2 linked regions of the Homo sapiens genome follow. The protein of the gene in region 1 purifies or fractionates together with the protein of each later gene. This does not show direct contact. Each region holds a gene or a part of one and is shown on either strand. Other genes may lie near its edges.

Region 1 (5,354 bases):
ACTTGTGTCTGCTTGGAGCCCCAGGCAAGCCATCCACATTTCCATGGCACAGGGGTGCAGTCGATGAGCTGCATTAGTCCTTCGCTGGGCTGTGTTTCTATTAGTGGATCCTCTGAGGCTGGTGCTGTGCCTGAGATCATTAAGTCAGATGCGCTGAAACTTTGTCAAACAAAAGTGCTTAGGGCACAGCCTGAGGCTCTGTCTGCTTCTCAAGGAATTGCCCATCAGTCTCTGCCAGGCGTGGGTGCTCATCACTGACACCTGTGTCTCTTCACAAGGGGCTGTTGTAGCAGGAGGGATGAGGTTTTTTTTGTTTTTGTTTTTGTTTTTTTTGTTTTGAAGACAGAGTCTTACTCTGTCACCCAGGCTGGAGTGCAGTGGCTTGATCTTGACTCACTGCAACCTCCACCTCCTGGGTTCAAGTGATTCTCCTGCCTCAGCCTCCTGAGTAGCTGGGACTACAGGCACCCGCCACCACACCCGGCTAATTTTTTGTATTTTTTTTATTTTATGTATTTATTTGAGATGGAGTTTTGCTCTTGTCACTGAGGCTGGAATGTAGTGGCATGACCTCTTCTCGCTGTAACCTCTGCCCACTGGGTTCAAGCGATTCTCCTGCCTCAGCCTCCCGAGTAGCTGGGATTACAGGTACCCACGACCATGCCCAGCTAATTTTTGTATGTGTAGTAGAGACGGGGTTTCACCATGTTGGCCAGACTAGTCGCAAATGCCTGACCTCGAGTGATGTCCCTACCTCAGCCTCCCAAAGTACTGGGATTACAGCCATGAGCCACCATGCCCTGCCTGAAAGATTAGTTTTTATTTTATTTATTTTTTATTTATTTTCTTTTTTGAGATGGAGTCTGTCTCTGTCGCCCAGGCTGGAGTGCAGTTTGCAATCTCGGCTCACTGCAACCTCCACCTCCCGGGTTCAAGCGATCCTCCTGCCTCAGTCTCCTGAGTAGCTGGGATTACAGGCATGCATCACCACGCCTGGCTATTTCTTTTTGTATTTTTAGTAGAGACGGGGTTTCGCCATGTTGGCCAGGCTGGTCTCGAACTCCTGACCTCAAGTGATCCGCCCACCTCAGCCTCCCAAAGTGCTAGGATTACAGGCATGAGCCATCGCACCTGGCCTGAGGGATGAGTTTTTAAATGACTTCCATAGCTGTCATTAGGTTCTGTCAGCCACTGGAACACACTGCTTTGTTCTTTTCCTCCTGCTTGTAAAACGCCAAGGCTATTGCCAATGTAGTATCTTCAGCAAAGGAAGGAGGCAGCTGAGTCAGGAGCCGGAAGTACAGAAAGAAGCCACAGCTCATCATGCCTGATGAAGGGAATTCAGAGCAGATTCCTAATTTTCAAAAATTCCATGCTTTGGCTCTTCATAATGGAAAAATGCAGAATTATAAGTTTAAACTCAAATGGGAGAAGCACCTGTGAATTAATATTTTGTGAAAAACAAAACAGGAAACAATATAATCTACATACTGCATGACGTTTTATGTGTGAAGATGCACATAGAAGAGAATATTGGCCGGGCGCAGTGGCTCACACCTGTAATCCCAGCACTTTGGGAAGTCAAGGTGGGAGGATCACTTAAGCTCAGTTCAAGACCAGCCTGGGCAACATGGTGAAACATCGTCTCTATCCTTTTTTTAGAATAAAATTTAATTTAAAAGAATATTGGGGCCAGGCGTGGTGGCTCATGCCTATAATCCTAACACTTTGGGAGGCCAAAGTGGGGGTATTGCTTGAGCGCAGAAGTTTAAGACCAGCCTGAGTAACATAGCAAGACCCTGTTTCTACAAAAAAAAATATAAAAAATTAGCAGGGTGTAGTGGTTCACACCTATAGTCCCAGCTATTCAGGAGACTGAGACGGGAGGATCGCTTGAGCTTGGGAGGTCAAGGCTGCAGTGAGCTATGATCATACCATTGCACTCTGGCCTGAGCGACAGAGCAAGACTGTCTCAAAATCAATAGTGGAATATTGGAAGGAAATACATCAAAATATTAGCTGTGGGTAATGAAAGTAGGGAATTTTTTTCTTTTCTTTTTTTTTTTTAGACTGAGTCTCGCTCTGTCGCCCAGGCCCAGGCTGGAGTGCAGTGGCACCAACTCGGCTCACTGCAACCTCCGCCTCCCGGGTTCACGCCATTCTCCTACCTCAGCCTCCTGAGTAGCTGGGACTACAGGTGCCCGCCAGCACGCCTGGCTAATTTTTTGTATTTTTAGTAGAGACGGGGGTTTCACCGTGTTAGCCAGGATGGTCTCGATCTCCTGACCTTGTGATCCACCTGCCGCGGCCTCCCAAAGTGCTGGGATTACAGGCATGAGCCACCGCCCCTGGCCAGGAAGTTTTTTCTTTGTTTCCAATGTTTAAGTTTCTGTCAGTGAACATGCATTATGGCTTTCTTTTTTTTTCCACTTTTTATTTTTTTGAGACGGAGTCTTGCTGTGTCACCCAGGCTGGAGTTCAGTGGCGCGATCTCGGCTCACTGCAACTTCCGCCTCTGGGGTGCAAGAGCGATTCTCCTGCCTCAGCCTCCCAAGTAGCTGGGATTACAGGCGTGTGACACCACACCCGGCTAATTTTTTGTATTTTAGTAGAGAGGGGGTTTCATCACGTTGGCCAGGCTGGTCTTGAACTCCTGGCCTCAAGAGATCCACCCGCCTCAGCCTCCCAAAGTGCTGGGATTACAGGAGTGAGCCACCGTGCCTGGCCACCCACTGTGTTTTAACTCAGAATAGACAGTGCACAGGATTGTTGCAACGAAATCCCAGCGCCCCTGCGCCGGGTGGAGGAGCTGGGCAGGAGGAGGACTTTTCCCTCTCCCTGAGCTCGGTGATCCCCGTCTCTCCGCAGGAAAGGCCGAGGGGGACGGCAAGATGCACATCACCCTCTGTGACTTCATCGTGCCCTGGGACACCCTGAGCACCACCCAGAAGAAGAGCCTGAACCACAGGTACCAGATGGGCTGCGAGTGCAAGGTAAGCAGGTCCTGCCTCTGCTGGAGCATCGCCTCCTCCCAGTGTCTCCAGATGGACGGCAGGGATTTTGATCCCTGGCTTTCCAGGACCCGTTAATCCCCGGCTCCTGATCTAAGACCAGGCTCTGGGAAGGTAGAGTCATCCCAAGAGTAAGGCTGTCTGGCTGGGGACAGAGCCTTTGACCCCTGGTCCCTGGAGAGCCCTGAGGCACATCTCTGACAGGGGATGTCTGGAGGCCGGGCGCTGCGGCTCACGCCTGTAATCCCGGCACTTTGGGAGGCCGAGATAGGTGGGTCACTTGAGGTCGGGAGTTGGAAATCAGCCTCACCAACATGGCGAAACCCTGTCTCTACAAAAATACAAAAATTAGCCAGGTGAGGTGGTGCACGCCTGTGATCCCAGCAACTTGGGAGGATGAGGCTTAAGAATTGCTTGAATGTGGGAGGTGGAGGTTGCAGTGAGTTGAGATCACACCACTGCACCCCAGCCTGGGTTGACAGAGTGAGACTCTGTCCCAAAAAAAAAAGAGGGAGATGTCTGGAAGGCTAGGAGATTTGAGAGTAAGAGCATGAATTCAGCTCTGTTACCTGTAGCTTCCAGAAAAAGGAGCTGTATGGGGAGAGAGAATATGGTCCCATGGAGAATTTTCTACAAATGTGCAAGTGCAAACGCCTGTGTGGCTTATGAGAAGGCACTGCAGGCCTTACGCTGTTTCCAACATTCCCGACATTTTCACACCTGGGTTGGTGTCTATGTGGGGTCTGTGTGTTGAGAATACCTGAACACCTGCTCCTCTTAAAATGAGCCCGGAGGTTGTGCCAGGCACAGCTGGAGCAGTGCAGCGCCTAGATGTGGCTGTGGAAGGTGAGATTACCGCCTCCAGGGCTCCCAGGCTGGCTCCTACCCTGTGGGCTCCTAGCACCCTATCCCCACCCTCCCTGCAGGAAGCATGGCTGAGTGCTGGGCACCTCCCACCCTGGGTCACTCCCAGTGAGTCTGGGACCAGGAGACTCTGGTGAGGCTGTGGGGATTGGCCTTCCCTGGGGAGCTGCCTGGGGCTGCCCTCCCTCCTGACGGCCCCCAGCCCCTTCTCCGCATGTTCAAAACAGGAATTCTGAACTCATAGTCTCCAGCCACACGTATGTTAAGCGAAACTCCTCTGTGCCCAGCATGAAATCAAAAGCAAGTTTTTCCTTTTTCTTTCCACGGTGGTGAAGGCGGTCATCCTCTTGTAGCCTAGGGTTCCTTGGCCAAATTGCTAGTTGCCGATGACCTCGGGGCTCGGCTTGCGAGCAACACTGGGCTGGAATCTGTCTCCAGGAAACCCAGGCCCTTTTATTGTTGCTGTGTCCCCCAGAGGGCAGGGCCAAGCTGAGGCCATTCTGTCATGCTCAGGAAGGTAGAAGATGGCCCAAAGGGAAGCACACCTGCAGTAGGAGGGGGGGCAGCGGTGGGCAGGGCACAGCTTCCCTGCAGGTTAGACCCCCTCGCAGGCCAGCTGCCTGCCCCTGCAGGAACCGTGGGTCTCGGGAGAGGCTGCCATCCCTGCACATGACAGGTAGGCACATTGCCGGGTTCTGGACATGCCCCCAGAGCAGCCTCTGCCCACCCCTTCCTGGGTCCCTGACTCCGTCCCCCTCCGTGTGCCCCTCCCCAGATCACGCGCTGCCCCATGATCCCGTGCTACATCTCCTCCCCGGACGAGTGCCTCTGGATGGACTGGGTCACAGAGAAGAACATCAACGGGCACCAGGCCAAGTTCTTCGCCTGCATCAAGAGAAGTGACGGCTCCTGTGCGTGGTACCGCGGCGCGGCGCCCCCCAAGCAGGAGTTTCTCGACATCGAGGACCCATAAGCAGGCCTCCAACGCCCCTGTGGCCAACTGCAAAAAAAGCCTCCAAGGGTTTCGACTGGTCCAGCTCTGACATCCCTTCCTGGAAACAGCATGAATAAAACACTCATCCCATGGGTCCAAATTAATATGATTCTGCTCCCCCCTTCTCCTTTTAGACATGGTTGTGGGTCTGGAGGGAGACGTGGGTCCAAGGTCCTCATCCCATCCTCCCTCTGCCAGGCACTATGTGTCTGGGGCTTCGATCCTTGGGTGCAGGCAGGGCTGGGACACGCGGCTTCCCTCCCAGTCCCTGCCTTGGCACCGTCACAGATGCCAAGCAGGCAGCACTTAGGGATCTCCCAGCTGGGTTAGGGCAGGGCCTGGAAATGTGCATTTTGCAGAAACTTTTGAGGGTCGTTGCAAGACTGTGTAGCAGGCCTACCAGGTCCCTTTCATCTTGAGAGGGACATGGCCCTTGTTTTCTGCAGCTTCCACGCCTCTGCACTCCCTGCCCCTGGCAAGTGCTC
Region 2 (4,933 bases), on another chromosome or scaffold:
CCACACCTAGCTTATTTCTGTATTTTTAGTATAGATGGGCTTTCACCGTGTTGGCCAGGCTGGTCTCGAACTCCTGACCTCAAGTGATCCGCCCACCTTGGCCTCTCAAAGTGCTGGAATTACAGGAGTGAGCCACCACGCCCGGCCAAAGGGTGGCTGAAAGTTGGTTGCCTCCTAACTTCCACCAACAAAAAATTATTCAGAACATTGTTCAGAAAACATTATTCAGCACGATAACTGGAACAACATCAAATAACCTAAAAGAATGAAAAGTATACCATTAACAATGAACTAATGGAGGCAGTCAAAATATCAATTACCAATTACAGGTCCAAAGATAAACACAGCAGATATATGCACATAATCTTTATATTCATGAAGCCTTCTAAAAAGAATAAAATCTTTGTTCTTGGCCATTTGGAAAGTGCTGCTACCTAGATCTAGGGAATCCAACAGTCAACTTCTTCAGAAGAACGAATGAATTTCAATTACAAACCCAAACTGTTGCAACATGAAAAACTGTTCCACCAATTAGGGATATCGTCCAATTCTAAAGGGAGAAATTCACAGCTTTCAGCATGTCTATGTCAGCCATGAACTTTGGAGTAATGGAGCTGTCCACAGAACTCAAAAAGCCTGAAAAAACTAAGTAAAATAAGAGCCTGGATTTTTCCACCAATTTATTTAGGGCCACTAGCAACCAGGAATGATTTAGAACAGACTATATTTTAATTTAGTTTGAACAAACCTAAACATTCATTTTTAAACACAAATATTCATGTGAGTGCTAGGTTTCTGGTAAAATTTATTTTTAATTAAAAAATATGTTTAATTTATATTAAAATCAAACTTTTTCTGACAAATAAGAACGTTAAAAATGATCTGGATAGATCATCTAATTCTTTCTCCATCATAATGCACTGTTTTTCAAAGATGCAAAATATTTTGAAAAAAATAAAATTCAGAAGGACAAGTAAAATTATTTGACAATTAAAATGTAACTGGTTGCTTAATGAGGCTCTTTAATTTGATCAGTTACCCTTTTTGACCAAACATCATGGAAATATGGGTTTAAACAATTTTTTTCCAGTTGGATTTATACCAAAAAAAAAAATTTCATATAATGCAACTAGATACATTTTACATTATTTTTAATTTTCATTGACCCACAAAAAGGATGCTGATTTCCCCAAAGCACCTGATGACATACTTCAGTTCAGGTAATCCACTGAAGATTTCTTTGCGGCTTAGTTCAGAAATCCCATTTCCAAGAAATACTTTTGTTCCATCAAATTCTTTGGCTCCTTTCTTACATTTTCCTTTAATATCAGAGTATACAGAAATAACATCTCCAGCTTTCATAACTAGAGAAAGAAGAAAATCAGATTACACTGATTTATACTTTGGCAGAAGAATCGTGAAAATTATTTGAGCTAGATCGGTGATCTCTAGAGGCATCAATAGTGGGCATGAAGCAGTTCAAACTTGCTCATTACCTCAATCTTTAATAGAAAATCTGACTTTTTACTTTAAAATATTCCATAACAATAAAACTCACTAAAGAATCTTTTTCAGTGAAAACAAAGAAATAAAATAGCTTCAAAACATCCTACCCTCAACTGGAAATCTCAAGCTGAGCCAAATTATTTCCCCCAAGCCTTAAAAGATTTCTTATAAATCTTGACATCTCAGCTCAAACCTCAAAGTTCTAAGTTTCCTTCAAAAGGACTGTTCAAAAATGTACCCTAAAATCCTTCAAAGAAATATTTCTAAATCCCATAACCCTGTTTGTATTTGCTATTTTGATATGACAGCACGATTAAGGCAGACTTTAATGATAAGCATATATAGTCATTCATATATATATATATATATATATACACACACATATAGGCACACATATATACGTGTGTGTATACACTTAGAATACCTTTTACAGTATACAGTGTACAGAGTTGCTTTATATGGCTGATTAAATCCAGTTTGTGTAGGCATTTATTTTCTGTAACAACTCTCAGTGTTATTTATAATTGGAAATTATATTCCACTTCCAAAAAACATTTTTAAACCTAATCTATCATAAATTTATTTGGTCTATTACCTGACAACAATAGCGAACAGCCTATTAGCTAGAGCTAAGAGAACTGTTAAAATCATGTAGATCAGATGTCAACACACTTTTCCTGTAAAGGGCAAATAAATATTTTAGGCTTTGTAGCCACATAAGTTCTCTGTGGCATATTCTTCTTTATATGTGTATCTTTTCACAACATTTTAAAAAGGAAAAAACCATTCTTAGCTTATGGGCCACACATAAACAGACATGAGCCAGACTTGGCCAGGAGGTAGTAGTTGACCCAATTCTGATACAGATCAAATTATTCATTTCAAGGACACCATAACTGAGGCCCAGAGACGGAATACGTTTTCTACAGATGAAAGCAATTGTTTCTTGATTTCAAGTCCAATAAGGTACCACTGAACCACAGTGACTAACTTACTAAGCATATGCAACACAGGTATGTCGCCAACTGGGTGAATACATTAAGAGTATCAAGTTTCATCCCAATGTTCAGAGTCCAGGTTCTGGATGTTCTCTCACTAATGACACAACAGCTTTCTGAGGTTTTAAGGCAATGCAGTCAAGAAAACAAAACAGAAGTTCATTGACGTACTCTATCAGTAATGATCCACTAAAACAACCATCATCAAATACATCCTTATTTGGAAGGAAAAAAAAAAAACCATCAGAAAACCTTATATGATGACTAGTTTGTTAGTCCTTACTGGATAAAACCCTAAATGCAAAGCTGGAAAAATACCCGACCAAGAAAAATTTGGAATATATCTTAGTGACAAATCAATAAATTTTCCATTTGAAAATGCACATAAATTTTAGAGAACCTTAAAGACAAATCTAAACATTATACTTACATTGTGATGCTGACACAATTCCTGGGGCATAGACATGGGCTCCTCTTAAAACTGCATTGCCACACTGGGCTCCAACAATGGCTTCACACTGTTGTTTTTTAATATTCTTTCTAGAAATGTAAGACACAAGAAGTTTAATAGTAACATACCTCCAATGCCTACCAATTTTTCCCGTGTTCTATCTGAACTCTAATGCCTCTTTAGTCTTAACTGTCCTGAATACATAAGAAAACGCTGAAAAGAGAGGCATACATATAGAGGAAACAGGAAAAAACAGCAACACGAAGATGGGCACTTGAGAGGAAGAAAAAAATCAAGAGGTCCATCTGCTGGAAGGCAATAAAGTGGCACCAGAAATTGCTTAATCATTTAACAAGCATTACTGTTTATCATAGCATTAGGAGAAAAATAGACTTTCTCTGTCTTCAAAGACTAAAATAGAAAAATACACAAGGAATTACAAAAACATTTCTAAAGTGGTAAATTGTTGCATGGTAAATTATGAATAATTTAAACAAGACAGGAAAAGAAGATAAGTCTTTTTTCCTTCCTTTGCTGCCCAACCTTTTTGAGTCTTTTCCAGTTTCTCACATTCATTTCTTAGACCACTAAAATCTGTATTACTTCTAACACTCAGGGTTCCAAAGATCAGGGACCCAATGTGATCAGCCCTAAATAAAAACCCTTAACAATGAGTCTCTAATAAGCTTCCTTGGATGTGCTGTCACAACTCACTGCTGGGGGAATTAGGTGCATCCTGTCTTCAATTCCATGATCGCCAATTCATCAAATCTTACTAATTTTTCAGCTTTATACCCACTCTTTCCTGGTCCCAAACATTCTCATTGCTCATTCTCTGCCTACTTCTTAGAGGCTCTCCCCGCCAGGTTCCAAAACATGCGACCATCTCTACTCACCTTGCATTCTATCCCTTGGCAATCTCATGATTTCAATAATCACTCACAAAAACAATCCACAAATTCTAATGTTTAGCCTTTCTAGTTTTTTTTTTTTTTTTTTTTGAGACCAAGTCTTTCTCTGTCACCCAAGCTGGAGTGCAGTGACGCAATCTTGGCTCACTGCAACCTCTGCCATCTGGGTTAAAGTGATTCTCATGCCTCAGCCTCCTGAGTAACTGGGATTACAGGTGCTCGCCACCACACCTGGCTAACTTGTGTATTTTTAGTAGTGACAGGGTTTCACCATGTTGGCCAGGTGGGTCTCGAACTCCTGACCTCAGGTGATCCACCAGCCTCAGCCTCCCAAAGTACTGGGATTATAGGCATGAGCCACCACGCCCAGCTTAGACTCTTAATTAGTATTTCTAATTACCTACGGACAGCTATATAGAGACGTCTCACAGTTACTTCAAACTCAACAAGTCCTAAACAATAATCAGTTTTCCCTCATCCATTCCTCCACTCCTTGGCAGGATCCCAAATCTTTTCATCCTGTTTCCAATCTTGAATGAGACGTCATTATCTGCCCAGATAACCAAACTAGATGCCTCAGTGTTACGGTCTGGATGTGTCCCCCAATATTCATGTGCTGGCAACTTAATCCCTAGTGCAACAGTGTTGGAATATGAGGCCTATTGGGAGCTGTTCAGGTCATGAGTGCTCTGCCCTCATGAATGAATTAATGCTATAATAAAAAGGGCTTGCAGCAGTGAGTTTGCTTTCTCTTGCCCTTGTGCCCTCTACCATGTACAGATGCAGCAAGAAAGCCCTCACCAGATGCAAATGCCTCGATCTTGGACTTCGTATCCTCCAACACTACAAAAAACAAATTTATGTTCTTTATAAATTATCCAGTCTCAGGTATTCTGCTATAGCAGCAAAAAATAAACTAAGACACTCAGCGTCATCTTAAAGTCCTCCTAAGCCTTCACATTGATTGATTTAGGAATCAAGCTATCTTCTAGTTCTGATAGGTTTTGTGGGCGTATCTCCTGATGTTGGACACATATCTCTTTGTGATTACTGAAATAGCTTCCTGC

What was found. Proteins that work in one complex are often made in the same cells at the same time.
Region 2: the proteins of TIMP2 (region 1) and NSUN6 fractionate together in Homo sapiens (co-fractionation; one large-scale study listed by BioGRID). This does not show direct contact.

What each region holds. Positions count from the first base shown.
Region 1 is NC_000017.11:78,855,161-78,860,514, reverse strand, and holds part of TIMP2 (metalloproteinase inhibitor 2 precursor), read left to right. Parts: intron 1-2,868; coding exon 2,869-2,993; intron 2,994-4,650; coding exon 4,651-4,848; 3' UTR 4,849-5,354. UniProt on the Homo sapiens protein: Complexes with metalloproteinases (such as collagenases) and irreversibly inactivates them by binding to their catalytic zinc cofactor. Known to act on MMP-1, MMP-2, MMP-3, MMP-7, MMP-8, MMP-9, MMP-10, MMP-13, MMP-14, MMP-15, MMP-16 and MMP-19.
Region 2 is NC_000010.11:18,613,250-18,618,182, forward strand, and holds part of NSUN6 (tRNA (cytosine(72)-C(5))-methyltransferase NSUN6), read right to left. Parts: intron 3,045-4,933; coding exon 2,935-3,044; intron 1,365-2,934; coding exon 1,211-1,364; coding exon of another isoform or gene 1,199-1,210; intron 1-1,198. UniProt on the Homo sapiens protein: S-adenosyl-L-methionine-dependent methyltransferase that specifically methylates the C5 position of cytosine 72 in tRNA(Thr)(TGT) and tRNA(Cys)(GCA). In vitro also methylates tRNA(Thr)(AGT).